Linked DNA regions of Homo sapiens. The protein of the gene in region 2 purifies or fractionates together with the protein of the main gene of each other region. This does not show direct contact. Each region holds a gene or a part of one and is shown on either strand. Other genes may lie near its edges. The genes, in order: SEC16A and SEC24A.

What was found.
Region 1: the proteins of SEC24A (region 2) and SEC16A purify together in Homo sapiens (affinity purification with western blotting; 2 studies listed by BioGRID and IntAct, with this or other methods). This does not show direct contact.

What each region holds. Positions count from the first base shown.
Region 1 is NC_000009.12:136,469,096-136,484,079, reverse strand, and holds the start of SEC16A (protein transport protein Sec16A), read left to right. Parts: upstream 1-1,039; 5' UTR 1,040-1,142; intron 1,143-5,249; 5' UTR 5,250-5,371; intron 5,372-6,395; 5' UTR 6,396-6,464; coding exon 6,465-10,031; intron 10,032-11,968; coding exon 11,969-12,105; intron 12,106-14,984. UniProt on the Homo sapiens protein: Acts as a molecular scaffold that plays a key role in the organization of the endoplasmic reticulum exit sites (ERES), also known as transitional endoplasmic reticulum (tER).
Region 2 is NC_000005.10:134,669,765-134,684,748, reverse strand, and holds part of SEC24A (protein transport protein Sec24A), read right to left. Parts: intron 12,941-14,984; coding exon 12,863-12,940; intron 10,135-12,862; coding exon 9,974-10,134; intron 9,705-9,973; coding exon 9,532-9,704; intron 8,727-9,531; coding exon 8,624-8,726; intron 5,148-8,623; coding exon 5,021-5,147; intron 2,377-5,020; coding exon 2,267-2,376; intron 1-2,266. UniProt on the Homo sapiens protein: Component of the coat protein complex II (COPII) which promotes the formation of transport vesicles from the endoplasmic reticulum (ER).

The DNA.
Region 1 (14,984 bases), on a different chromosome or scaffold from region 2:
ACGAGGAGCCCGCGCGTCCCCCTTGCGAGTCGGCGGACACCCGGCTCCGCGCGGTGGCCGGGCCGCCCCTCCCTGCCCGGGCCTCTGTGCAGAGCGAAGGGACAGTAGAGGATGCGTCGGGGAAACCCCAGGACGCTGGCCAGGGACTGGCGGCAGCCATCGACCAACTTCCGGCGCCGCTCGGTGCCCGCGGCCACGCCGTAACCAGGCAACCAGCGCGCAGGCGCAGTCGGCCCTCCGCGTCCCGCAGCTCCGGCCGCTCCCGGCGCATGCGCGGCCGCCGCCGCCTGCCCTCCAGCCTCCCAGCCCAACGGAAGAATGCGAGGAGCGCGCCCGCGTCAGGGCCCCGCGCTTCTCAGCTGGGCGGAGTAGCCGTTCTCGGTGCGTGAGCCTGCTGGCATCGGTCCTGCAGACTGATTTCCCGCTTGTGGCCTTGATTGAAGAATCCCATCTCTTCTCACATCTTAAAACGAAAAAAGACTGGGAGAAAGAGCCAGCGTAAACAGGGCGACGTACTGGGACGGCCCCGGCGCGCCTGGCCGGGCAGGTGGCGAGGGGCGGGGCCAAGCGGTGAGGCGGCAGACGGACGCCGGAGGGGGGCGGGGCCACGGGCGGGGAAGGACGGCCGAGGGGCGGGGCCAAAGGGGCGGGAACGACAGGATGAGGCGGAGAAAGACGGACGACGGGCGGGGCTAAGGGGGCGGGACGAAAGAATGAGGCGAGGAACGACGGAAGAGGGGCGGGGCCAAGGGGAGCGGGAACTACAGGATAAGGCGTGGAAGACGGGCGGGGGGCGGGACGAAAGAATGAGGCGGGGAAGAACGGACGCCGGCGAGGGGCGGGGGCAGAGGGGGCGGGACAGAGGGATGAGGCGGGGAGGACGGACGCCGGCGAGGGGCGGGGCCGAGGGATGGGCTGTGAAGGGCTGAAAGAGAACGCGTCTGGGCCGACGAGCCGAGGGGCGGGGCCAGGGGCGGGGCGCGCGCTGATGTCGTAAGCCGGACACGTCGGCGGCGCGGCGGCCGCGGAGACCCGAGCCGGATGTGCCAAGATGGCTGCGGCGGCTGAGGTGTCTGTGCTCGTCGCCAGCGTCGGGTGGGCTTTCGCCCGCGGCTCCTGAGGGATCGGTCTCAGCCGCGCGGGTGAGGGGGCGAGCGCGGGTGAGGGGGCGAGCGCGGGAGGAGGAAGGCGGAGGCCGGCCGGCGGAGCCAGGCCGTGGAGGTCGGGGCGCGGAGGAGAGGAGGCGGCTGGGCCCAGCCCCGAGCGGGCGGTGCATCTCGGGTCCCGCCGGGGCCGGTCGAGGGGACAGACGTCCGGGCCCCCGGGCCAGAGCGGAAGGCCGGACGCGGCGCGGGCCGCCGTGGGACTCGAGGGACTGACGTGGACCCGGCTGGGCTGCGGTGACGCCGGTTCCCGGGGCGGGAGGCTGGACCCCCAGGCACCCCTCGTAAGACTCTTAACTTTTCAAATGAGCGTGTCTTGTCCTCACCGGCTAGAAGGCTTCCTTAGCGATGCTGGTGAAGAGACACATTTACATTTGAACCAAAGAGCAGAGTTGTTTGTTTGTAATTTCTTGATTGGGCGATCAGGATGTTGCAACAGAGGCCGAGGGTTAGAGGAGTGTGTGTGATCCGGCTCGCCCCTTTGTGATGGAAGTGTTACAGTAGAGCCTTCAGAAACATCAGAGCCATTTAAAGTCAGTTTTTGCCGCTTAAGAACACTTTTAAATGGCTTGTAAGTTGGGTGTGGATTGTATATTAAGATTTTGTTTTACATGTGTGATGCCGATGTTAACCAAAGAGGTATTTCCCATCCCCCATGTGGCAATACGAAGCAAACGGAACCGCAGACGGTTCTTCCTAGAAGTGATACTTTTGCAAGTTTCAGCACAATGCAGCCTCCCTGCGTTTTTTCCTCATCCCCTTTCTTAAGTTTCAGGTGCTGGTATCTTGTAGACAAGAGGCAAAATAGCGTGTCTTTCTTGTTCCTTGTTCCTCGTTTACTGTTAATAGTGGTTACTACAGTGAGTCTCAAAATTGTACTTAAAGTTTTCTTTGAGGCAGTGGGCACTTTTTTTTTCTTTTTCTTTGTCTTTTTTTGCCAAATCCAGCAAGAGGTCATGGTAGTGGGTAAATGTTAATGTGATTTCTTCTTCTGTAAGCATCTTTCATGAATACCAGGGTCTTCGTCATTTTCATCAGTGTTAGGCTGCTGGCCTCCTCTGTCGCTGGCTTCCTCTTCAACATCTAACTGTATGTGGTTGCGATTCTAACTTAGAAGAGTTGGAGTTGATCATGTCTTTGTGTCAAGCATCCCACAGTCTGACAGGGCGTCACTAGCAGCCACCGTGAGGGAGACTGTAGGCAGTAGGTAAACTCAGGGGCTTCCTGGCACACTATTGTTTTCCTCACTTAAAATATGAAGCCAGTGGCAGCAAGAGGAGAGGGGTGTGCATGCATTTTAAATGCCTCAGTTCTGTAGCCAGAACTGTACTAAAAAGAGTTTTGCTTAGGTATCCACATGGTTACAAGGCAGTTTAACTGACTAGCTAGGTTTATGAATACTGCATTTTCAAGATCAGCTGGCCTCTTTGGAACAATAAAAGAATTAGATGACTTGAGGTTACAGAATAAAATTCCCTGGGCCGGGCGCGGTGGCTCATGCCTGTAATCCCAGCACTCTGGGAGGCTGAGGCGGGCGGATCACGAGGTCAGGAGATCGAGACCATCCTGGCTAACACGGTGAAACCCCGTCTCTACTGAAAATACAAAAAAAAATTAGCCGGGCGAGGTGGCGGGCGCCTGTAGTCCCAGCTACGCTGGAGGCTGAGGCAGGAGAATGGCGTGAACCCCGGGGGGCGGAGCCTGCAGTGAGCCGAGATCGCGCCACTGCACTCCAGCCTGGGTGAAAGAGCAAGACTCCGTCTCAAAAAAAAAAAAAAAAAAAAAAAGAATAAAATTCCCTGTAGTGGTGACATAGGTGATAGGCAGTTGCATTGTTTTTCTCCTGGTGAGTAGAGAAAAAGATCAAAAAAATCAGTTCAAGTCACAAGATTGTTCCAAATGAAAGTGGCATGTTGCTAAAAAGCTCTCAATTAGGGAGCATGAAGGTTGGAATGCTCCTTGTAAGTGATAATGTTTGCCATAAAAAAGCTCTTAGTCTAGGAGAGCTGCGGAATAATTTTTTTTTTTTTGAGACGGAGTCTCGCTCTGCCCAGGCGGGAGTGCAGTGGCGCGATCTCAGCTCACTGCAAGCTCCGCCTCCCAGGTTTACGCCATTCTCCTGCCTCAGCCTCCCGAGTAGCTGGGATTACAGGCGCCCGCCACCACGCCCGGCTAATTTTTTGTATTTTAGTAGAGACGGGGTTTCACCGTGTTAGCCAGGATGGTCTCGATCTTCTGACCTCTTGATCTGCCCGCCTCGGCCTCCCAAAGTGCTGGGATTACAGGTGTGAGCCACCGTGCCCGGCCACCCCTGTTAAACAGCAGGTGGGATTAGGACATCCCAGAATCCACTGTGAGTAGAATCTCATAAGATTAAACCCGGGTTTTTTAGGAAAAAATAATCACATCGATTCTCGCATTTTATAGACAAAAATACATTGCAGAAAGAGGAGTGGCTGCCTCGAGCCACTCACCTGGACACTCAGTTTTGCTCTCACAGCAGCAGCCAAGGAATAAACCTCTAGGCCCGTGCTCTGTGTTTAAAGCAAACAAAAGCTTTTGAGGATGATAAGGATCTTCCCGGGGAAGGCCATGTCTTGAGAGATGAGGTAGGACCCCAGTTCTGGCAGCAGAGTTTCAGGAGGTGCTTGGAAGTTTGCGTGTTCTGGCCGTGGTTGCAGGTGTCGCTGTGTCTGCTGTGGCTGTGCAGCTGGTAGGACCCAGTGGAAGATAATGCCAGTGCACAGATCAGAGGAAGATGCTCTGCCTGTTCTCCTTTCAGTCCATATAAAATAGAGCTGTGAACATTCTTTGTTTTCAGATGAGAGCCTAAAACCTCCATGAAGCCTTTGCTGCTGTTCCTAGTAAATAGCTTGACTTAAAATACATTGATCAGTGTTTTCTTCTTTTTTTTTTTGAGACAGTTTCACTCTGTCGCCCAGGCTGGAGTGTTGTGGCTTGAACAAGGCTCACTGCAGCCTCAACCTCCCTGGCTCAAGCGATCTTCCCACCTCAGCCTCCCGAGTAGTTGGGACTACAGGCACGCACCACCACGACCGGCATTTTTTTTTTGGTGATGGGGTATCGCTGTGTGTTGCCCAGGCTGGTCTCAAACTGCTGAACTCGAGTGGTCCTCCTACCTCCCAAAGTGCTCGGCTTACAGGTGTGAGCCACTGCACCTGGCCAGTGTTTTCTTCTTTTATCTGAATATCAGAAAGATTTCCAAGAGACCAAAATAATATACATCTGCAAAGATGTGTGGATTGGCCAGGCACGGTGGCTCACGCCTGTAATCCCAGCACTTTGGGAGGCCGAGGCGGGTGGATTATGAGGTCAGGAGATCAAGACCATCCTGGCTAACATGGTGAAACCCCATCTCTACTGAAAAGACAAAAAATTAGCCTGGCATGGTGGCAGGTGCCTGTAGTCCCAGCTGCTCAGGAGGCTGAGGCAGGAGAATGGCATGAACCTGGGAGGCGGAGCTTGCAGTGAGCCGAGATCGCACCACTGCACCCCAGTCTGGGCGACAGAGCAAGACTCCGTCTCAAAAAAAAAAATGTGTGGATTAAACTACAGAGTCCTCCCCTTTGGTTTAATTTTTCCTTTGATTGGCTAAACTTATCTGTTTGTTCATGAGGGTGGTGCTGACAAGAAGAAAGACTGATAGAAAGAAAAGAACTTTCCTAAAGATATAGTCCTTGAATTTTTGCCTTAAGAGGCCAGGTTAACTATTCAAGTTTGTATCTACTATGTTTTATTTAAAAACTGATGGAGGTTTTTGCCCCTTTCTTTTCTGTAAGAGGTTTCTTGGCAATTCTGCCTGTTGTTGAAAGTGTTGGAATCCAGTCTGTGCCTTGTAAAGCTGCTTTAAGTTTCCTGGGAGTTTCCATTCCAGGCACAGTTACGGCTCCAGTTCAAAGGTAACATCTTGCTGGTGGTCCTTTCAGACCTTAAGCCAGTCACAGTACAAAAACGGAGACCTATGAAGAGGTGTGATAAAAGGCATTTAGATGAATATATTTATTTTGCAGTGCTTTTTAAAAAAATGATTGTGTCACTTTTTATTTATTTATTTTTTTAAAATAGAGACCGTCTTGCTCTGTTGCCCAGGCTGGACCGCGGTGGTATAATCATAGCTCACTGCAGCCTCGAACTCATGGACACAAGTGATCTTCCTTCCTTAACCCCCTGAGTCCCTGGGACTACAGGTGTGTGCCACCATGTCTGGCTAACTTTCTTCTTTTGTAGAGACAAGGTCTTGCTATGTTGCCCAGGCTGGTCTCGACCTCCTGGGCTCTGGCAGTCCTTCCACCTTGACCTCCCAAAGTGCTGGGATTACAGGCATGAGCCACTGCACCCAGCCTATTTTGCAGCTTTTATAACTATACTTCATAATGCTCTTTCATCAAAGAAAATGGAAGAATGAATTTTAAACTTTTGTATCCCTTTTGAAATTTAAAATTAACATGTATGGAAAGTATGATATAAAGTTTTCCTTTTTTTTTTTTTTTTTTGAGCTAGGGACTCACTGTGTCACCCAGGCTGAAGGGTAGTGGTGCTGTCATAGCTCACGACAGCCTCAACCTCCCAGGCTGACGCAATCCTCCTGCCTCAGCCTCCTGAGTAGTTGGGACTACAGGTGTGCACCACCATGCCTGGCTGATTTTTGTATTTTTTGTAGAAACGAGATCCCCCTGTTGCTCAGGCTGGCCTCGAATTCCTGGGCTCAAGTGGTCCTCCCGCCTTGGCCTCTTAAAGTGTTGGGAGTACAGGCGTAAGCCACCATATCTGGCCAGTTTTTCTTTCTTAATAGAAGAGTTGGCTCTTCCTGGATCTAGGGATGGTTTACAGGAAAACATTGAGTATCTGTGGGTCTGGTAGCATATCACAGCAGTGGTCAGGTTCCGCACTGTCCCTGTTGTTGTGGCGCGGGTCTGCGGCAGCAATGGGCCCTGTGAGTAGAGGATCCCAGGGGAGGGAGTGGCCATCTAGACATACTCCATCAGCTCGCAGCCAGGCCATCCAGGGTTCTCACTCTGTCCCCTGCCCCCCAGAACAGTTCCTCAGGGACAGGTGTTCTCTGCTGGGGTGGGGTGTAGGGGAGAGAGAGTCCTTGGGATTTAAGTGACATAAAATCATGTTCAATGTTTCTCTTTTTCCTTAGTTTTCCTGATTGCAGCTAGGACTTTGAATATATGGATTTTATGCTGATTTTCTCTTTTTCTTTTCCAGCTCCAATTAAGGAACAGCTATATCCTGCTTCCTTCTGTAAGCAGCATCGACTTGTGCAAGGGTTCAGTCATGCAGCCACCGCCCCAGACGGTCCCGTCTGGCATGGCTGGGCCACCTCCAGCCGGGAATCCTCGGAGCGTGTTCTGGGCTAGCAGCCCTTACAGGAGACGGGCTAATAATAATGCAGCAGTGGCTCCGACAACTTGCCCGTTGCAGCCGGTCACGGATCCATTTGCTTTTAGTAGACAGGCGCTCCAAAGTACACCACTGGGCAGTTCGTCCAAAAGCAGTCCACCTGTCTTGCAAGGCCCAGCCCCCGCAGGGTTTTCTCAGCACCCCGGTTTGCTTGTTCCTCACACACATGCCAGAGATAGCTCTCAGGGACCCTGTGAGCCCCTGCCTGGACCTCTGACACAGCCCAGAGCACATGCCAGTCCGTTTTCTGGTGCATTGACACCTTCAGCACCTCCTGGGCCTGAGATGAACAGGAGTGCAGAGGTCGGTCCCAGTTCAGAGCCTGAAGTTCAGACTCTGCCATATCTTCCTCACTACATTCCAGGAGTGGATCCTGAAACGTCTCATGGGGGCCACCCTCATGGGAACATGCCTGGGCTCGACCGACCCCTGAGCAGGCAAAACCCACATGACGGTGTGGTCACCCCAGCAGCATCCCCTTCCCTCCCTCAGCCTGGTCTGCAGATGCCAGGACAGTGGGGGCCAGTGCAGGGAGGCCCACAGCCCTCGGGGCAACATCGTTCACCCTGCCCTGAAGGACCTGTTCCCAGCGGGGTGCCCTGTGCCACCAGCGTTCCTCATTTCCCCACCCCGTCCATCCTACATCAGGGCCCTGGTCATGAGCAACACAGCCCTCTGGTGGCTCCCCCAGCAGCCTTGCCCAGTGACGGAAGAGACGAGGTGAGCCACTTGCAAAGTGGAAGCCACCTGGCCAATAACTCTGATCCTGAAAGTACATTCAGGCAAAATCCCAGAATTGTGAATCACTGGGCAAGCCCAGAGCTCAGGCAGAATCCAGGAGTGAAGAATGAGCACCGGCCCGCCTCTGCTCTTGTGAACCCCCTCGCCCGGGGAGATAGCCCAGAAAACCGTACGCACCACCCACTGGGGGCTGGGGCCGGGTCTGGCTGTGCCCCGCTAGAAGCAGACTCAGGAGCTTCAGGAGCTCTGGCGATGTTTTTCCAAGGGGGAGAGACAGAAAATGAGGAGAATCTCTCATCTGAAAAAGCAGGCTTATCTGGTCAAGCGGACTTTGACGATTTCTGCTCCAGCCCTGGGCTAGGCCGTCCGCCCGCACCTACACACGTGGGGGCAGGCAGCCTCTGCCAGGCCCTTCTCCCAGGCCCCAGCAATGAGGCTGCTGGTGATGTGTGGGGTGACACAGCGAGCACAGGGGTGCCGGATGCCAGCGGCTCGCAGTATGAGAATGTTGAGAACTTAGAATTTGTTCAGAATCAAGAAGTTCTGCCAAGTGAGCCCCTCAATTTGGACCCTTCCTCCCCGAGTGACCAGTTCAGATATGGGCCCCTTCCTGGGCCAGCTGTGCCCAGGCATGGTGCTGTGTGCCACACCGGAGCCCCTGATGCCACACTGCATACAGTGCACCCTGACAGCGTGTCATCCAGCTATAGCAGCAGAAGCCACGGAAGGCTCTCAGGCTCAGCCAGGCCCCAGGAGCTGGTTGGCACATTCATTCAGCAAGAAGTTGGAAAACCCGAGGATGAAGCTTCAGGTAGTTTTTTTAAGCAAATCGATTCTTCTCCCGTAGGAGGTGAAACAGACGAGACCACTGTGAGCCAGAATTACCGTGGCAGCGTGTCCCAGCCCTCAACCCCGAGCCCCCCGAAACCTACAGGAATATTTCAGACAAGTGCAAATAGTTCTTTCGAACCGGTAAAATCTCACTTAGTTGGGGTAAAACCATTTGAGGCAGATCGCGCCAACGTGGTTGGTGAAGTAAGGGAGACCTGTGTCCGCCAGAAGCAGTGCAGACCAGCTGCCGCCCTGCCCGATGCTTCCCCTGGCAACCTGGAGCAGCCACCAGACAACATGGAGACCCTCTGTGCACCCCAGGTCTGTCCCCTGCCTCTTAACTCCACCACGGAAGCTGTGCACATGCTTCCGCACGCAGGGGCACCGCCCTTGGATACTGTGTATCCAGCACCCGAGAAGAGGCCTTCAGCCAGGACCCAGGGGCCCGTGAAGTGTGAGAGCCCAGCAACGACTCTGTGGGCGCAAAGTGAGCTGCCAGATTTTGGAGGCAACGTCCTTCTGGCCCCTGCAGCCCCGGCGCTTTATGTGTGTGCAAAACCTCAGCCACCTGTTGTTCAGCCTCCAGAAGAGGCGATGTCCGGGCAGCAGTCACGGAACCCAAGCTCGGCGGCCCCGGTGCAGAGCCGAGGTGGCATTGGTGCTTCTGAGAACCTTGAGAATCCTCCCAAAATGGGAGAGGAGGAGGCCCTTCAGTCCCAGGCGAGTTCTGGTTATGCAAGTTTATTATCCTCACCGCCCACTGAGTCTCTGCAGAATCCTCCAGTCTTGATTGCTCAGCCTGATCACAGCTATAATCTGGCTCAGCCCATTAACTTTTCTGTGTCCTTATCGAACTCTCATGAGAAGAATCAGTCCTGGAGAGAGGCTTTGGTGGGGGATAGACCTGCAGTCAGCAGTTGGGCTCTCGGTGGTGATTCTGGGGAGAACACTTCTTTGTCTGGGATTCCAACCAGCTCTGTCCTTAGCTTGTCTCTGCCTAGCAGTGTTGCCCAAAGTAATTTTCCACAAGGTTCTGGTGCTTCCGAAATGGTTTCTAATCAGCCTGCTAATTTGCTGGTTCAACCACCATCCCAGCCAGTTCCAGAGAACTTGGTTCCAGAAAGTCAAAAGGATCGTAAGGCAGGAAGTGCTCTTCCCGGATTTGCTAATAGCCCTGCTGGAAGCACAAGTGTGGTGTTAGTTCCACCTGCACACGGCACCCTGGTGCCTGATGGTAATAAGGCAAACCATTCCAGTCATCAGGAAGACACTTACGGAGCCCTAGACTTTACCTTAAGCAGGACTTTGGAAAATCCTGTAAACGTGTACAACCCGTCCCATTCTGACAGCCTCGCTTCTCAGCAAAGTGTTGCCAGTCATCCCAGACAATCTGGGCCTGGGGCGCCTAACCTTGACCGTTTTTATCAGCAGGTCACGAAAGATGCCCAGGGCCAGCCTGGCCTCGAAAGAGCCCAGCAGGAGCTGGTGCCACCCCAGCAACAGGCTTCTCCCCCACAACTACCCAAAGCCATGTTTTCGGAGCTGTCAAATCCAGAAAGTCTGCCCGCACAGGGACAGGCCCAGAACTCAGCACAGTCACCAGCAAGTCTGGTTCTGGTCGACGCGGGTCAGCAGCTGCCCCCTCGGCCTCCTCAGTCCTCTAGCGTGTCTCTGGTGTCCAGTGGCTCCGGCCAGGCAGCTGTGCCGTCAGAGCAGCCGTGGCCACAGCCAGTGCCTGCACTTGCCCCCGGCCCACCGCCTCAGGACCTGGCCGCCTACTACTACTACCGGCCTTTGTACGATGCCTACCAGCCTCAGTACTCTTTGCCGTACCCACCGGAGCCTGGCGCAGCCTCCCTCTATTACCAGGTAAGAGTCGAGTCGTATGTGTAACCCACTTTTCTGTCTGTGCTTTGACCAGTTGAGTCTCACTCACAGTGTATTCCTTAGTAGTGTTTGTTCGCTTGGTTCCGGGGTCACCCACAGTCCCGCAGGCGTGAGAACAGTATTCCAGTAACGCTTCCTGAGGACAGGGCTCCCGGCTCCAGAACCTACTCTCCCAAGCACAGGCCACCCTTAGTTCACACCACGCGTTAGCATCTTGAATTGCTTATAATACTTGCTTAGGATTTGAACCAGCCTCCCCAGCTTATGTGACAAAAAGAGCCCTCCATTTGCTGTCACCCCTGCTCCTGCTGGCTGTCTGCAGAAAAGTTCTGTCTTGCATGCCTTGGGAAGCTGGGCTAGCCTCTGGAAGCTTACGTCAGAAGCATTGGGTATAACCATAGTCCTTTAAATGCCCCTGGAGAATAAAAACATGGAGAGAAAATAGTTTTGGAGCATGAGCCACACGCATCAGCTAAGCGAGGCGGAGTCCCGCAAGCTGCTGTCAGCACGTGGTGGTGCGGGCAGCGGCTCGGGGACCGGCTGTGCTCGTGCAGAAGATTCTTCTGTGCCTCTTTTTCACAGGGACACCAGCTCATGAGTGACATTTGAGTTAGGTTCCGCATAATCCTGCAGTCGTTCGAAAAGTGTCTGTGTACACATTTGATCATTATCTGCTTTTCCTACCCTCTAACCCAGTTCAACATACACCGATTGGGTTCACCGATTCAGTGTCACCCCAGGTAGAAGGATTGTGTGATAGGGAATTGGAAAACCATGGTCTTGCGGTATGTAAGGCCAGTTGGAACCAGACTTGGGGCCACACAGGAAGGCCTTGCAGTCAGAAGGGGGCCCGCCCCGAGGAGCAAGGCTGCCGTGGCTTGCTGGGTACTGCCCCGGGGAATGGGGCTGGGCCTCCCCCATGGGCCTCGAGCATCATGGTTTGTGTGCGTGTGACCAGGTGCACACCTGACCCCTCAGACCTGTGTAGGTTCCAGAAGGAGCCCAGGCACTTTTTATTTCCATACAAGGACATTCAGCTCTGCTGGGAGCCCTGGGGTGGGGCTGGTGCAGAGCGACGGGAAGCCGTGGCCTCACTTCGGGTCCTTTGTCCGGTCCTCCTGCTGCGAGCCACCTCCCTCCGCAGGAGTGCACTCCTCCCGCCGTGCCTCTTGCTGTGGTGTCCGGGTGGCCAAGGATGAGTCTGTTTTGCTGTGATTTCACATTTCCTGCCAGGCAGCGGCAGCGTCGAGGCCTTGAGGCTTTGAGGCGCTTAAGCGTGAATTCTGGCGTGTGTCCGGGGCACTGCATGTCTTCAGATCCTCATGTGTCCACATGGGCCCCGTTGGGAACAATTCTGTGGCCACGAATTGGTTGGTGATGGGGCTGAAGCCTCCCGAGAATAAAGCACGGTCCGCTTTTAGAGGCTGCTCCTGGCTGGGGCTCTGTTCACTGGGACCCTGGTTCTCTGACTTAACTGAGGTGGCATCTGAAGCGGGACGCAGGGGTTGTTCAAATCATGGCATCTCCACACTGGACTTATCAGGAAGCAGAAACCTAACAGCCCCTTCCAGAAGTCGCCACAGCCCCCTGGGGTTGTCTGCTGACATGCTGGTGCCCTGGGTCCATCCAGAGGTCTCCTGAACAGGGCCAGGGCTGTGGGTCTTAGGACACCCTGCTGCCTGTGGGTGTGGCTGTGCTTTGGAGGTCTGTGTGGTTGTGTATGAGGGAAGGGCCACGCTCAGTCCTGCTGGAGAGCAGCCATCTGCGATGTTTCTAGCTCAGGCTGGTTGTTGGACGAGCTTGCTCTTGGTAGGTATCTAATGCTGCCCGCCCTCTGCAATGTTTCCAGCTCAGGCTGGCTGTTGGACGAGCTTGCTCTTGATTGGTGTCTAATCCTGCCCAAATGCTTCCTCCCACAGGATGTCTACAGCCTCTATGAGCCTCGATACAGGCCCTATGATGGTGCTGCGTCTGCTTACGCCCAGAACTACCGCTATCCCGAGCCCGAGCGGCCCAGCTCCCGAGCCAGCCACTCCTCGGAACGGCCACCTCCCAGGTGCGGCCGCGCCCACCCTGGCTGCCTCTCTGTCCTACTCAGACCCATGTCTGTGTTGCTTGCTATGGGGATAACTTAGTGACTCAAAAAGTTCTGTATTTCTGAAGAATTGTACAAACTTATCTAACATATGTTGACATTTTCTTGGTATGGACAAATTGTAGGGTGTGTTTTTAAATGAAATTAAACACTGCCCCAGGTGGTCATTAGCTGTGCTGGTCAGTTAGCATTTGGCGCCACCCCTACTGGGGCCAGACCCTGCTCAGGGCTGCAGAGAAGCAGCCTCTGACTTGTCTGTGAGCCCCTCTTGACGGGGCACGTCTGTTGGTCCGGCCATTTGCTAATGGGGTGTTCAGGCTCCCCAGAGACACGGCAGCTTTTCACCGGTCTCCGGAGGCCTGGGAGGACTGGTCACAGAGGTGACTTAATTCTTAGACCTGTCAGGCTGGCTACAGAAAGCAGGGCTTGAAAGCCTGTGTTTCCTCTTCTTTTTTTTTCTTTTAAGGCAGGTCTCACTCTGTTGTCCAAGCTGGAGTGCAATGGTGCCATCTTGGCTCACTGCAGCCTTGACCTCCTGAGCCCAAGCAATCTTCCCACTTCAACCTCCCGAGGAGCTGGGACTACAGACATGCCCCATCAAACCCAGCTAATTTTGTTCATTTTTTTTTTTGTAGAGACGAGGGTCTCACTATGTTGGCCAGGCTGGTCTCGAACTCCTGGCCTCAAGGGATCCTCCTGCCCTGGTCTCCCAAAGTGCTAGGATTACAGGCATTAGCCACTGCGCCCGGCCAGCCTATGTTTCTCCTTGACATTGCCGCCTCTGCTTGAAGGCCAGCCATTCCTCTGTTTGCCATTACAGAAGAGGGGTTTGGAAAGACCTGTGGCACTGTGGCTTCAGCTGAGTAGCCCTTTAAGCCAGGTCAGAGTCCTCCTGGGCCCTAGAGCAGAGGAGGCTGTTGTTGATTTTCATCTCCACTCAGGGAGGTGCGCAGAGCCCTGCGAGGGGTGGGCGTGGTCCTGGCCACCGCGCTAGGCTGCGCCTTCCAGGGCCTTAGCTGCACTTGCTCCTTGTGAGATCTGAGAGAGACTGTCTCACAGATAGAGCCTTCCTGCAAGGGGATATTGCTTCTTAAACTTGGTAATAGAGAAAAAGCTACTCATTAATGAAGACTTTGTACCTGCACTTGTTTTTGAAAGGTTCCTCGTGCTTATTAGAGGTTTTTAGGAGCTTACCTAAAGACAAAGGCTCTGTCTGTGAACCTCTGCCCACGCAGCTGGCCCTGGTGTACTCGGCTCCAAGGGCATGCACTGGGCGGTGTGCAGCTGGATGTTGGAGGTGCTTTGTGAAGCAGGCGGCACTGTGAGGCTTCACCTCTCTGGAGGCTGTAATTGTGAGAAAATTCCCAGGATTTGAGCTACTGTGTGTCACCCTGTCACCTGGGAAGCGGGGTTTGAAGTTAAGATCATATTCCGATTCAAAGCCTTCCAGCTCCGGGTGAGGGTGAGCAGACAGGTGTTTCCTAGAGGCCCTGAGAGGCGAGAGCACGGAGGAGAGACAGCCAGGGAGCATTCTCACTGTTCCGTTTTCCTTCTGCTGCTGGCCGCCCTGCCAGGCTCACCTAGGAACCGATTCTGAGAGGCCAGTGGTGGCTCGTGCTACGGAGAAGGCCTTTCACCAGAGGCAGGGTCAGGTCACCACAGGAGTGGCTTTGTCACCAGATCCGCAGGCTTACTCTTCCTTCCTGTGTTCGGATCCTGCGGCTGCCTTCAGCCCTGGCTTGCGCAGGCTCTGGGGAATCCTTTCTGCTCCTTCCCCCGCTTTGGTTGGGGAGCACACGTCTTGCATGTTTGTTCAGCCTCCGTGCTTGTGCGTGGCATGGACTCAACTCTCTGGGCCTGGTGTGGTCAGATCCCCGCAGGCACTGCCTGTCTTAGCCTTGTTGTTTTTGAGACTGTGTTGCTCCTGATGAATGACTGGGGTTGGAAAGGTCGGCTGAGGACACGGCGGCTCCTTGGAAACCCCAAGTCAGATAATTTCTCCAGAACCTGCTGTGGCCACTCAGGCTGTCGGTCAGCAGGGCTCGTTACTGTGGCTGAGCAGTTGGATGTAGGGGGACAAGTGGGCCGGGCCCCATGCCACCCAGCAGCAGCCCCGTCTCATGCAGAGGTGCTGCGCCAACCGAGCAGCCAACCTCAGCGGCGGGTGTGCAGCTCCCGTGATGTCTCCTGAAGGGGCGTGGGAAGGGTCACGTTTTAAAAATTAAATATTGTATGAAAATTATAAAATGCTCTTACATCCTTTCAAGAGTCTTTTTAGGTCTCACCCTTTTAGCCAGGCTGGAGTGCAGTGGTGCCGTCATAGCTCACTGTAGCCTTAAAACCTGCTGGGCTCAAGCCATCCTCCTGCCTCAGCCTCCTGCATAGCTGGGACTACAGGTGTGTGCCACCATGCCTGGCTAATTTTTTTACTGTTTTATGGAGACAGGGTCTCACTGTGTTTACCAGGCTGGCCTTTCAAGAATCTTGAAGGTACCAGAAGGTCTGATACTTGATCATTGTACTAACTTGTGCTTCTCCTGTAGTGAGAGTCAGGATCATGGCTTGGTCTACAAAACCAGCCTTTCTGGGGCACGTGTAGGAATCTGACACCACGTCAGCTCCAGGAGACCTGAGGGGGAGGTGGGGCCATTAGAATCCCGCTCCAGGAGCACACACACGGGCTCTGACGGGGGTACCCTGCACGGGTACAGGGAGTACCAACAGCCAGTGGTCTGGGGTCGAGGCTGTGAAACTGGCATTTTAGGTTGGTTTGAATGGCTCAGTGAGACCGGGCACTGTGGGTCACTCCTGCAATCCCAGCACTTTAGGAGGCTGAGGTG
Region 2 (14,984 bases):
TGCAACAAAATGTTTTCTTTTTCTTTTTTGTTTTTTGAGATGGAGTCTCGCACGGTTGCCCAGGCTGGAGTGCAGTGGCGCAATCTCGGCTCACTGCAACCTCTGCCTCCCTGGTTCAAGCAATTCTCCTGCCTCAGTCTCCCAAGTAGCTGGGATTACAGGCGTATGTCACCACATCTGGCTAACTTTTGTATTTTTAATAGAGATGGGGTTTCACCATGTTGGTAAGGCTGGTGTCGAACTCCTGACCTCCAGTCATCCGCCCACCTTGGCCTCCCAAATTGCTGGGATTACGGGTGTGAGCCACTGCACCTGGCCAACAAAATGTTTTCTATATAGAAGCTTTTCTGTGGTAAGGAGACTGGTTCCTCATAAGTTTACAGAAAAATGGACCCAACTGCCCAGATAAAGACACAAAAATATATTAATTTTTTTTTTTTTTTTTTGAGATGGAGTTTCGCTCTTTTGCCCAGGCTGGGGTGTGGTGGCGCAACCTTGGCTCACTGCAACCTCTGACTTTCGGTTTCAAGCATTTTTCCTGCCTAAGCCTCCCAAGTAGCTGGGATTACAGGCACTCACCACCAGGCCCGGCTAATTTTTGTATTTTTAGTAGAGACGGGGTTTTACCATGTTGGCCAGGCTGGTCTCGAACTCCTGACCTCATAATCCGTCTGGCTTGGCATCCCAAAGTGCTGGGATTACAGGCAGGAGGCACTGTGCCCAGCCAAAATACACTAAAATATTAAAAGGTAGTGTTGAGAGTTATCTTCATATTCCCTTTTCCCAAGAGATAATTATGGCATGGTGAAAGAGTAACCAAATCAAAAGGCCTAAATTATTATGCAAGTTCTACTACTAAGTGAAATTTGGCATGTCACTTAACCTAAGTCTGTTTTCATATCTGTAAAAGAGGATTAACAGCATTTTTCTAGCTTGCTTCAGAATACTGTTTGTGCTGATCAAAAGTGTACGTGCTTTATAAAATGTAAAGTGCTAATTAAACATTAGGCATTCACAAGCAGCCTAAGCAACATAGTGAGACTCTGTCTCTAAAAAACTTTTAAAAAATTAGCAGGGCATGGTGGTGCATGTCTGTAGTCCCAGCTACTTGGGAGGCTGAGGCAGGAGAATTGCTTGAGCCCATGAAGTTGAGGCTACAGTGAGCTATGATAGTGCCACTGCACTTTAGCTTCAGCAACAAAGTAAGACCCTCCTCTCTAAAAGAAATAAACGTTAAACAAAAAAATTAGGCATAGTAATTAGTTTTAAAATGCAAGACCTCAGATATTCTCACGGGTGTAGAAAAGAACAATATTTGCAAGAGGATCTTCATCACAGCATTATTTCTAATAGAAAAAAAATTTGTATGAAGGAAAAATGAAGCAATAGGGAAAAAAAAACTGACTGTAACTTATAAGTAAATATGAGCTGGCCGGGCACGGTGGCTCATGCCTGTAATCCCAGCACTCTGGGAGGCCGAGGTGGGAGGATCACAAGGTCAGGAGTTTGAGACCAGCCTGACCAACATGGTGAAACCCCGTCTCTATTAAAAACTCAAAAATTAGCCAGGTGTTGGCTCGCGCCTATAATCCCAGCTACTCAGGAGGCTGAGGCAGGAGAATTGCTTGAACCCGGGAGGCGGAGGTTGCAGTGAGCCAAGATCACAGCACTGCACTCCAGCCTGGGTGACAGAGTGAGACTCCGTCTCAAAAAAAAAAAGTAAATACGAGCCCAATATCATATTGGAAATTTCTGAATGTCACATAAGACACTTAAATGGGACTTTACATAAACTTTTACCTTTCAAATATACCCTTATATATTAATTACTTTAGTAATAAACAAGTATTACACTTTTACACATTTAAAAACATAAAATTTTGGCTGGGCACAGCGGCTCACACCTGTAATCCCAGCACTTTGGGAGGCCAAGGTGGGCAGATCACTCGAGCCCAGGAATTCGAGACCAGCCTGGGCAACATAGCAAAACTCTGTCTCTAATAAAAATAAGCCAGGTGTGGTGGTGCGTGCCTATAGCCCCAGCTACTCAGGAGGCTGAGGTGGGAGGATCACTTGAGCACGGGAGGTCGAGGCTGCAGTGAGCCTTGAACCTGCCACTGCACCACTGCACTCCAGCATGGGCAATGAGAGTGAAACTCTGTCTCAAAATAAAATAAAATAAAATTTTGTTACAGGATGCTGTATTGTTTTACTTAAAACCTGGTAATAAAAAATGGGTATACTGTATCAAAAAATAAAAGTTTACCATGTATTCTGAAGGAGCCATAAACTCAATAGTAGCATTTTGAACTTCTGGTCTTCTGTGAGGTTCTCCATAAACTCTGGTCAAAGGGTTGTACAAGAATTCTTCAGGAACTATATAAAGTTAACAATACACATATTGAAAAAACTGAAAAGAATTTAATGTATTTTGCATTTGGCCACTTTCTTCCTTGAAAAGATGACAAACATTCATTAAATGTCAATTATTTTCTTTTTTTTTTTTGAGACAGAGTTTCACTCTGTTGCCCAGGCTGGAGTGCAGTGGTGCAATGTCAGCTCACTGCAACCTCCACCTCCTAGGTTCAAGCGATTCTCCTGCCTCAGCCTCCCGAGTAGCTAGGATTACAGGCATGCGCCACCACGCCCGGCTAATTTTTTGTATTTTTAGTACAGACGGGGTTTCTCCATGTTGGTCAGGCTGGTCTCGAACTCCCAACCTCAGGTGATCCGCCCGCCTTGGCCTCCCAAAGTGCTGGGATTACAGATGTGAGCCACCACACCCGGCCTATTTTCTTAAACTTCCCAATTATACAAGGATATTAACATTTCACATATGAAATGTACAGACACTAGCTGGCACTAGAAGCTATGGTAAGACAATTTCAGAGGTCAAGGTCATAAGGTTTAGTAAGTTTCATTAATTAATGAGAACTTTATGGAACATCACTTAACCTAACATCATACCTACCACTTATAATACACTAGTGGTCAAAGAGTATTTTCTAAATTAATTATCATTGTATCTGTCTTCCTACTAATTGTTTAGAAATTCAAATCCCTATGCACTCTAAAGGTTAAGCTATAGTTCAGGAAATAGCCTGGTTTGCAGATGAAAGGGGCTTCAACTTTTATTATAATTTCATTTTGTATATTAAAGCACCTACACATAAAAATTTTAAAGGTAACTAAATACTTCATGTACATTTTCAGAATTGTTACAGTGCAAGAGAAAGTTCTTAGCCTATCCTTACTTTTCTATACTCAAAACACACACACACACACACACACACACACACACACACAAACAATAAAACTGTTTTTTTGTTTTGTTTTATTTGTTTGTTTGAGATGGAGTTTTGCTCTTGTTGCCAAGGCTGGAGTGCAATGGTGCAATCTCGGTTCACTGCAACCTCCGCCTCCCGGGTTCAAGCGATTCTCCTGCCTCAGCCTCCCGAGTAGCTGGGATTACAGGTGCCCGCCACCACACCCAGCTAATTTTTTTATATTTTTAGTAAAGATGGGGTTTCACTACATTGGCCAGGCTGGTCTCAAACTCCTGACCTTAGGTGATCCACCCACCTCAGCCTCCCAAAGTGTTGGGATTACAGGCATGAGCCACTGCACCTGGCTCTGTTTTGTTTGTTTTTGAGACAGAGTCTCGCTCTGTCGCCCAGGCTGGAGTGCAATGACTCGATTTCGGCTCACTGAAACCTTTGCTTCCTGGGTTCAAGCGATTCTCCTGCCTCAGCCTCCCGAGTAGCTGGGATTATAGGTGCCCGCCACCACACCCGGCTAATTATTGTATTTTTAGTAAAGATGGGGTTTCACTGTGTTGGCCACACTGATCTCGAACTCCTGACCTCAGGTGATCCACCGCCTCGGCCTCCCAAAGTGCTGAGATTAGAGGCGTAAGCCACCGTGCCCATCCAATAAAACTGGTTTTTAAAAACTCTTGGCCAGGGCTGGGTGTGTTCTCGGGAGGCTGAGGCAGGAGAATTGCTTGAACCTGGGAGGCAGAGAGGTTTCAGTGAGCTGAGATCATGCCACTACACTCCAGCCTGGCGACAGAGCCAGACTCTGTCTCAAAAACAAACAAACAAAAACAAACTCTTGGCCGGGTGCAGTGGCTCATGCCTGTTAATCCCAGCACTTTGGGAGCCTGAGGTGGGCAGATCACTTGAGGTCAGGAGTTCTAGACCAGCCTGGCCAAAACGGTGAAACTCCACCCCTACTAAAAATATAAAAATTAGCCGGCCGTGGTGGTGGATGCCTGTAATTCCAGCTACTCAGGAGGCTGAGGCAGGAGAATCGCTTGAACCTGGGAGGCGGAGGTTGCAGTGAGCCAAGATCGTGCCACTGCACTCAAGCCTGGGCAACAGAGTGAGACTCCATCTCAAAAACAAAAACAAAAACAAAACTCTTATATTCCTCTATTTCTCAAATCTTTCAAATAGACACTGTGGATACTGGCATACCCACTTCCTTCTCTAATACTAACAGAACCCTGTTGATTACATTATAGTCCTCAAATAAAAACTGTGACATAGTTATTGAGAGAAATCTCCTCCTCCTCAATTACTGAGAAAACTACATTCAACTAACCTTCTAGCACTGCCTACTTCCCTTCATTCAGCAGTGAATGAATTGGGCAGCTATTCTGTGGACTTATTTTCTTTCACCCTAGAGAAAAGGCGTGGGACAATTTCTAAATAAAAATGTTTCTTAAATTCCTGGCTTAAGTAATACCATGAAATATACCACTTATTATATACCCAATACAATGTAAAAATGGGATATCCATGTAATACTATCATTATTTTTTGCTTAAAAAATAAATAATTAAATTTATTTATAAATATAAACGCACAGAAAAAAGTTACCTGTAGTTTTCTCTGAGTGGAAGGATTGACTAGAGGTAAATAAAAGGGTTTTTTTTTTTTAACTGTGCATTTGTATCATCTGATTTCCCTACAATGCAAGTAGAAACGTTTAAATGTTTCAAAAAAGCATCCCATACCATCATTGACTCGATAACATAAGTTACACTTCCATCTCCTTTGATCAAGAAAGCTGACGAAAGGATTGATGTACGTCCTGCATGAACGGCATCTCACAATTGTACTGGAGGTAACCACAGGCAATTGCTGGAAAAAAAAAAACAGAATTAAATTTTTAAAGGCAAAAATCATCATGTTGAAAACATAAGCATGAATCCATCCTGTCTAAATAACTGTTGGGATATTATCATTTTAGAGAAAACTTAGAGTACAAGATGTATCTAAACTGCCATACACAAAAACCATGTAGTTGAAATGTATTAATTTTAAACCCTACTATTTTGCTCCAAGACCATTCTCATTAAAAGTTGTCTTAAAAAAAAAAATTATTGGCTGGGGACAGTGGCTCACATGTGTAACTCCAGCACTTTGGGAGCCAAGGCGGAAGGATTGCTTGAGGCCAGGAGTTTGAGACCGGCCTGGGCAACATAGTGAAACATGACCCTCTCAAAAGATTTAAAAAATTAGCCCAGTGTGGTGAGCTGGGTTGAAGTGGGAGCATCACTTGAGCCTGGGAGGTCAAGGCTGCAGTGAGCCATGACTGAGCCACTGCACTCCAACATGGGCAACAGAGCAAGACCCAGTCTCAAAAAATAAAATAAAATAAAAATGTAAAAACCATTTTTTTCCTCATTAAACACTCATATTGCAAAACCAAAATAGCAGGCCAGGCACAGTGGCTAACACCTATGTCTAAAATCCCAGCACTCTGGTGGGAGGCCAAGGCAGGAAGATTACTTGAGGCCAGGAGTTTGAGACCAACCTGGGCAAGAAAGTAAGACCCTGTCTCTATTTTAAAAATAAAAATAGGCTGGGCGTGGTGGCTCATGCCTGTAATCCCAGCACTTTGGGAGGCCAAGGCGGGTGGAACGCGAGGTCAGGAGTTCAAGACCAGCCTGGCCAACGTGGTGAAACCTCGTCTATACTAAAAATACAAAAATTAGCTAGGCGTAGTGGCAGGTGCCTATAATCCCAGCTACTCAGGAGGCTGAGGCAGGAGAATTGCTTCAACCCTGGGAGGCAGAGGTTGCAGTGAGCCAAGATTACACCACTGTACTCCAGCCTGGGCAACAGAGCAAGACTCCATCTTGGAAATAAATTAAAAAAATATATATATATATATCCCAGTGCTTTGGAAGGCCAAAGCAGGAGGATCACTTGAGGCTGGGAGGTAGAGACCAACCTGAGCAACACAGCAACAGCCCATCTCTACCAAAAAAAAAGAGTTTTTAAATAAATAAATAATAAGTTAAAAAAATAAAACCAAGATGGTAAATTTACAATGTACTTTTGGCATAAATGGCAAAGAAAAAAAAATCAACATTCTAAAATATATGACCAATGAAACTATTACAAAGTTTGTTGATGTTACATTAAGAAGCTTACTTAGTTCTCAACTATAATAAAGTAAGGTGAGGTTAATTTAAATAACCAGTTAAACTTTGGAATTACACTCCTAGTTAAAGTTTATCCTACATATTAAAAGTTCTAAAGTCTTAGCTGGGTATAGTGGCCAATGCCTACAGTACCACTTACTCTGTCTGGAGGCTGAGGCAGGAGGACTGCTTGAGCCCAAGAGTTCAAGGCTGCAGTGAGCTATGATCATGGAACTGCACTCTAACCTGGGTGACAACGAGAGACCCGGTCTCTAATAAATAAATAAATAAATAACAGTAAATACGTGGGAAGGGTCTTTGTAAGACTATCAGATTTGGGGAGATTTGTTTTGATTTACCAGAAACCCTGAGACAGGTGAACACTGATCAACTTAACTGAGAGCCAGTGCCTTGGACAACAAAGTGACATAGCATCTCATCTTTAAAGAAAGGTTTTATTTATCTTTTTTTTTTTTTTTGAGACAGTCTCACTCTATTGCCCAGACTGGAGTACAGTGTGGGATCTTGGCTCACTGCAACCTCCACCTCCCGGGTTCAAGCGATTCCCTTGCCTCAGCCTCCCCAGTAGCTGGGATTATAGGTGTGCATCACCATGCTTGGCTAAATTTTCTATTTCTGGTAGAGACGAGTTTCACCACGTTGGCCAGGCTGGTCTTGAATTCCTGACCTCAGGTGATCTGCCCGCCTCAGCCTCCCAAAGTGCTAGGATTACAGGTGTGAGCCACTGCACCTGGCCTTTATTTTTTTTTTTTAAGATAAGGATCTCATACCCAATCCTGGGCAATGCAGTTAAGACTCTGCTTCTTAAAAAAAAAAAAAAAAATCAATACAGGCAATAAAATTATATCACCACCAAAAAAATCCTATCACCAAAAGTAGTGTGTTTTGGGAAAGTCAGCAATCCTCAAGAGTATGTGGCCACAGAGCTTTAGGACAAAGGTAGATCAGTTTCTTTTTTCTTCTGAAATAACTTTTCTTTTTGGATACAGGGTCTCACTCTGCCACCCAGGCTGGAGTGCAGTAGTACAATCATGTCTCACTGCAGCCTCAACCTCCTGGGCTCAAGTGATCCTCCCACCTTAGCCTCCCGAGTAGCCAGGACTAAGCTGGTCTTGAACTCATAGACCCAAGCAATTCTCCCACCTTGGCCTCCAAAAGTGCTGGGATTACAGGCCATGAGCCACCATGTCTGGCTTAAAACAACTTTTTAAAATAACAAATTTTACTGCAAGGATGGCAGAACGGGGAGACTAGGGTAAAGTACTTTAATGGGTAAATAATTCACAACCTATTAAAATAGTATGATTCATTTATTTAGTTTCTCTCAGTACCTCTATTCTATTCAGTACTTTTTGAATTTTCCAGCAATATACTTACTTTACCTAGTATTTGAAAGTGTTTAGTAATAAAATTTTTGGTTGAATTGTAAGTAATCTGTCAATCATCGACTTCCTAAAGACAGATCAAACAAATTCTATATGTAATTCTTGCATCATTGCAGAAAATTTTCATCACCAAGATAATTTTGCACAAAAGACATTTACCTTCACTAAAGAGGCCGGGTGTAGTGGCTCAGGCCTATAAATCCCAGCACTTTGGGAGGTGGGCAGATCACTTGAGGTCAGTTCGAGACCAGTCTGGCCAACATGGTGAAACACCATCTCTACTAAAAATAAAAAAATTAGCTGGGTGTGGTGGCAGATGCCTATAATGCCAGCTACTTAGGAAGCTGAGGCAAGAGAATTGCCCGAACCTGGGAGGCGGAGATTGCGGTGAGCCGAGATCTCGCCACTACACTCCAGCCTGGGCGACAGTGAGACCCAGTCTCAGAAAAAAAAAAAAAAAAAAAAAAAGAGCCGGGCGCAGAGGCTCACGCCTGTAATTCCAGCACTTTGGGAGGCCAAGGCAGGTGGATCACGAGGTCAGGAGTTCAAGACCAGCCTGGCCAAGATGGTGAAACCCCCTCTCTACTAAAAATACAAAAATTAGCCAGGCACGGTGGCAGGCACCTGTAATCCCAGCTACTAGGGAGGCTGAGGCAGGAAAATCACTTGAACATGGAGGGCAGAGGTTGCAATAAGCTGAGACTGCGTCACTGCACTCCAGCCTGGGCGACAGAGGGAGACTCCGTCTCAAAAAAAAAAAAAGAAAAGAAAAGAAACATACCACTAAGTCTTTGAAAGGATGAAGCAGCAGCCCCAAAGGAAGTTTGGCTTTATTCAATAAGGCCTGCGTCTGAGGAATGCTAGTCAGCGTGCATCGAAATAACCTATATCAAAGTAAAAAGTATGTATCAGTTGCTGCTATGATTATTTTTGAAGAAAACAACAACAAAGATTTAAAAGGTATACATTTTAATACTGGATCAGATTACAGATGAAATATTTCAATAGAGTCTCAAAATTTTATCCCATTTAAATATTTAAATCTAAGTCCTATGCAGAAATAGAGTGGATGGTTATCCTATAACTAAAATATAGTCTCTTTTTGGCTTGTGTGTAAAACAGTCTAAACTATCAAATGACTTATTTTTTGTTTTGTAAGTCTAGTTGACACTGGAATTAAATTAAACTTAGGTGATGGCCCAAATTGCAAAGTCTATTATTTAAAAGTTCAGTTTTGCTGAAGATTCTAAATACAATTTAAAGGTACCAAATTTAATTTATCAGAAATTATTGATCATATACATTTAAGCTTATGGTAAGTTTTTAGGAAAAAAAGGTATTATGTTTGTTATGAAATTAATTTTAAATGAGAGCAAATAAAGGATTATGTAGAAACAAATCCCTGTACTTTGGATTTTGAAGAAAGAAAGTAACCACCATAATGATAATGAATATCATAATCTCATTAGAGCTGATAAGAACAAAATCACTTCAGGAGTTACATCCCTATTTCTTGACGTAGGACTTTTCAAATCTCTATTAAGTAAACAAGTAAAAGAGTTCTATCATCTGTATCCAGAACTTTCATAAATTAATAATTTGTACAGCTTATTCATAACACCTGATGTGCCCCCTGCAAAAAGCTAGAAAACTTTTCGGACATGCATAATGTCACATCTGAAGCCTTACTCTGGGTTACAGTTGAGTTTCTGGATGTCTTCATGCAAATTTGGAACTGGAGGCTTCAAAGGTGTTGACGGAAGCATGTTTCTTTCTTGAAGAAGATTGACAACTCTTAGACCCTCTGGTTGTAGACTTAATCCACTCATGCTTGTGGTTAAATGATTAGCACCTAAGGGAGTCTACAGATACATAATTTTAAAGTAAGTAACTTTTATTAAGTGTGTAGGGAAGTGGTTAATTTCTCTGTAAATAACAAAAGTGTAATCTAGATCTCTTGGCCAATCTTTTGGTTCTGGAAAAATGTATAAAGACAAAGGCTTTATGAAATATCCATTATTATTCTAAATGGTTATAAAAATGTATAATATACCTTCCTAAAACTTTCTTCATGTGTATACAGTTTAAACCAAATGGAGAAATAGGTTAAAGAAAATCCCAAAAAGTTTACCTGAGTAAAGGCTTGTGGCCCACTTGGGTAATTCAAGGAAGAGGGTGGTACTCCAGTTGCACCAGGTGGTGTTGTGTTCTGATAACCAGGTGGTAAGGAGGGATATGAATATCCAACACTTCGGCTCATTTTGGGATTCTTGTTAGTAAGCTGTGGTGTTGCTAGAAACAAGGTAACTTTTAAGTTCTATTTTATACTCCAGAATACTTGATTTATTTATTTTAAAAAAACATTTTTTTTGGAGAAAGGGTCTCACTATTGCCCAGGCTGCAGTGCAGTGGTGCAATCACACCTCACTGCAGCCTTAACCTCCTAGGTTCAAGTGATCCTCCTGTGTCAGCCTCCCAAGTAGCTGGAATGACTGGTGTGTGCCATCATGCCCGGCTAATGTTTTTGTATGTTTTGTAGAGACGGGACTTCACCATGTTGTCCAGGCTGGGATTACAGGCGTAGGCCACCATGCCTGGCCCAGAATGCTTTAAATCAACACATAAATCTAATAAGTTATAGGTATTATAACTCCAAAATTCTTTGGATAATTTAATACTTTCATTTATCAAATTTTTAAAATAAGACAAACACCAGTAACAAATAGCAATGACTAAAATCTATTTATTTTATTTTATTTATCATTTTATTTTTCGAGATGGAGTCTCACTCTGTCGCCCAGGCTGGAATGCAGTGACACAACCTTGGCTCACTGCAACCTCTACCTCCCGGGTTCAAGCGATTTTCCTGCTTCAGCCTCTCGAGTAGCTGGGACTACAGGTGTGTGCCACCACACCACCTAATTTTTGTATTTTTAGTAGAGATGGGGTTTTACTACGTTGGTCAGACTGGTCTCAAACTCCTGACCTCAGGTGATCTGCCTGCCTTGGCCTCCCGAAGATAGGATTACAGGCCATGAGCCACCGTGCCCGGCCAAAAATCTTGTTAATGGATTTACACTAGTTAATATTTTATACTATAGTAGTAGACACAAAAACTAGTTTGCACAGTTAATTTACTTTCATGTCGGCTGGGTGTGGTGACTCATGCCTGTAATCCCAGCACTTTGGGAGGCTGAGGTGGGTGGATCACTTTGAGGTCAGGAGTTGGAGACCAGCCTGGCCAACACAGTGAAATCCCATCACTACTAAAAAGTACAAAAATTACCCAGATGTGGTGGCATGTGCCTGTAGTTCCAGCTACTTGAGAGGCTGAGGTGGTAGAACTGCTTGAATCCAGGAGGTGGAGGTGAGCCGAGATTGTGCCCACTGCACTCCAGCCTGGACGACAGAGGGAAACTGTCTCAAAAACAAAAACAAAAACAAAAACAAAAACAACAAAACAAAAGAACAGTTAATTTACTTTCATATCATGTACTAAATTTTGTATTCAGACTAAAATTTTAATTCAAAACAACTTTAATTATAACATCCTGGCAGGGCGAGGTGGCTCATACCTGTAATCCCAGCACTTTGGGAGGCCGAGGTAGGTGGATCACAAGGTCAGGAGATCGAGACTATCCTGGCCAACGTGGTTAAACCCTATCTCTACTAAAAATACAAAAATTAACTGGGCGTGGTGGCACGTGCCTGTAATCCCAGCTACTCGGGAAGCTGAGGCAGGAGAATCGCTTGAACCAGGGAGTTGGAGGTTGCAGTGAGCCAAGATCACACAACTGCACTCCAATCTGGGCGACACAGCAAGAATCCATCTCAGAAAAAAAAAAAAAAAAAAAATCCTAAATGGGCCGTGTGAGATGGTTCACACCTGTAATCCCAGCAAATCGGGGAACCAAGGCAGGAGGGATCTCTTCAAGCCAAGGGTTCGAGACCAGCCCAGGCAATATATTGAGACCCACCCCCCCATCTCTACAAAAATAAAAAAACTAGCCTGGCATGGTACCATATGCCTATAGTCCCTGCTACTCAGGGAGGGTGAGGTAGAAGATCGCACGAGCCCAGGAGTTTGAGGCTACAGTGAGCTATAACAGTGCTACTGCACTTGAGCCTGGGTGACAGAGACCCTGTCTCAAAAAAAAAAAATCCTAAAAGTACTCTATAGTCAAAACATAATAATAATAAATCCATGATCCCAATTCTGACAGAAGAAAAACTTAACAAAAAATCTAATGCATAGAAATAAAAAATGTTAAATAATAGAGCCAGATGTTATGGCACATGCCTATTATCCCAGCACTTTGGGAGGCAAAATGGGCAGATCGCTTGAGCCCAGGAATTCAAGACCAGCCTGGGTAACATGGTGAAACCCTGCCTCTACAAAAAATACAAAAATTAGCCAGGGCCTGGGCATGGTGGCTCATGCCTATAATCCCAGCACTTTGGGAGGCCGAGGCGGGCAGATCACTTGAGGTCAGGAGTTAGAGGACAGCCTGGCCAACATGGTGAAACCCTGTCTCTACTAAAAATACAAAAATCAGCAGGGTGTGGTGGCGGGTGCCTCTAATACCAGCTAACTGGGAGGCTTAAGTGGGAGAATCACTTGAACCCAGGAGGCAGAGGCTGCAGTGAACCGAGATACTGCCACTGCACTCCAGCCTAAGCAACAGAGCGAGACTCAGTCTCAAAAAACAAAAACAAAAACAAAAAGCTGGGCATGGTGACACGTGGCTATGGTCCCAGCTACTCAGGAGGCTGAGGTGGGAGGACTGCTTGAGCCCAGGAGACTGAGGCTGCAGTGAGCCATGATCGCACCACTGCACTCCAGCCTGAGCGACAGAGTGAGACCCTGTGTCCAAATAAATAAATAAATAAGTTAATAGTATGTATGGCTACATGATTATGAAGTTTCCCTCTTAGTTTCCTATATATTTGTACAATTACCACATATTATTTCTATAATCAGAAAAAAGAGATTAAAAAAAAAACTTTCATAGCATCTCACCCAATAAGCCACCTCCTTCAATCTCGTCGTAACTACTGTGGACCACCATAGATCCGTTATTGGTATTTGATGTAATACCTAAGAAGGAAGTTCATCAACAAGATTTTAATTAGAATGATTATTACAATCTCTGTATGATTTTAACTAATATCCAAAATTTTAAATAATTTTCTAAACAACAAATAATTTAAAACCACAGCCTATTAACAACATAAAAAATCCAAGTTTTTACATATACGATAGTTTCAAGTAATTTAGCTGCAACTTCAGGGAAAGGAAACATGAGTCTTTGGAAAGAGTCTTTTTTCACCTTACATTGTACCTAAGCCAAAGGCCCAAATAACAAGGCTTTTTCAAAACCTACTCCAGCAAAATAACTTCTAGCAAAAGATGGTTCTTTATGAAGTTTATAAAATTATATACCATCTGAAAGATTTCAGCAGTTGTGAGAGCTGCATTAAAAACCTCTAAGGAGCAGTACACAATGAAAAAAAATTATCAAAATCAAAACTACCTAAAGAAAAAGAGGCCAGGTGCGGTGGCTCACGCCTGTAATCCCAGCACTTTGGGAGGCCAAGGCGGGCGGATCACGAGGTCAGGAGTCAGAGATCAGCCTGGCCAACATGGGGAAACCCCGTCTCTACTAAAAATACAAAAAAAATTAGCTGGGTGTGGTGGCGCGTGCCTGTAATCAGCACATGCCTGTAATCAGCTACTCGGGAGGCTGAGACAGGGAATTCCTTGAACCTGAGAGGCAGAGGTTGCTGTGAGCCAAAATCGTGCCACTGCACTCCAGCCTGGGCGACAGAGCGAAACTCCATCTCAAAAAAACAAACAAAAAAAGAAAGTAAAATTATGAGGAGCAAAGACCTTACTTTCTTTTCTTTTCTTTTTTTTTGAGATGGAGTCTCACTCTGTTGCCCAGGCTGGAGTGAAGTGGTGCGATTTCAGCTCACAGCAACCTCCACCTCCTGGGTTCAAGGGATTCTCCTGCCTCAGCCTCCCATGTAGCTGGGACTACATGTGCCCGTCACCACGCCTGGCTAATGTTTTTGTATTTTAGTAGAGACAGGGGTTCACCATGTTGGCCAGGATGGTCTCAAACTCCTGGCCTCGTGATCCGCGTGCCTTGGCCTCCCAAAGTGCTGGGATTACAGGCATGAGCCACCGTGCCCAGCCCTTATTTTCAAAATATCTAACAATGAGAGTGGAATCCAAATTAATTTGAAGATGACATAAATGAATTAGAACAACTGCTTTAAGTCCAGAGGACAACCACTAAAATAGAATTAAAATCTTAACATCTCTTCTCCCAAAATTATACAGGATTAAAGACAAATGCCAGGGACATCTGTTTATGAGAACTAAATATTTATTTCTAGTTACCTCTACTAAGTATGAGCTCTAATTCAGGAATAGAAGACACTTAATTCAGTGAATAGCATTAACCTCTAGCACCTAAGTACAAAACTGCTAACTTCAATAGCTGTATTAACACGAAGTAGATACATTTAATGGTTTAAAGTCAGTAACTTCTTTCCAGTTCTCAAGACCAACATGATTTTAGCCATGAATTTGTAACAGAAAACCACAGTAAAACTTTTAGGAGAAACAAAAACACTGGGCATATTGTGAATTATTTTTAGTTGTTAAAAAAATGTAGGCAAGGCGTGGACGCTTACACCTGTAATCCCAGCACTTTGGGAGCCAAGGCAGGCAGATCACTTGAGCTCAGGAGTTCACACCAGCCTGGGCAACATGGGAAAACCCTGTATCTACTGAAAATACAAAAATTAGCTGGTTGTGGTGGCACATGCCTGTAATCTCAGCTACTCAGGAGACTGAGGCACAAGAATCGCTTGAACCTGGGAGGCGGAAGCTGCAGTGGGCCAAGATCCTTCCACTGCACTCCAGCCTGGAAAACAGAACTCCAGCCTCAGCAAGAGTGAGACTTATGTCTCAAAAATAAATAAAATAAAATATTAGCCAGGTGTGGTGGTACACACCTGTAGTTCCAGACCAGGAGGCTGCAGCTGTAGCCTCCTGCACCTCTGCATTCCAGCCTGTGTGACAGAGTAAACTCTATCTCTTAAAAGTTTTTTTTTTCTGGGGCCGGGCGCAG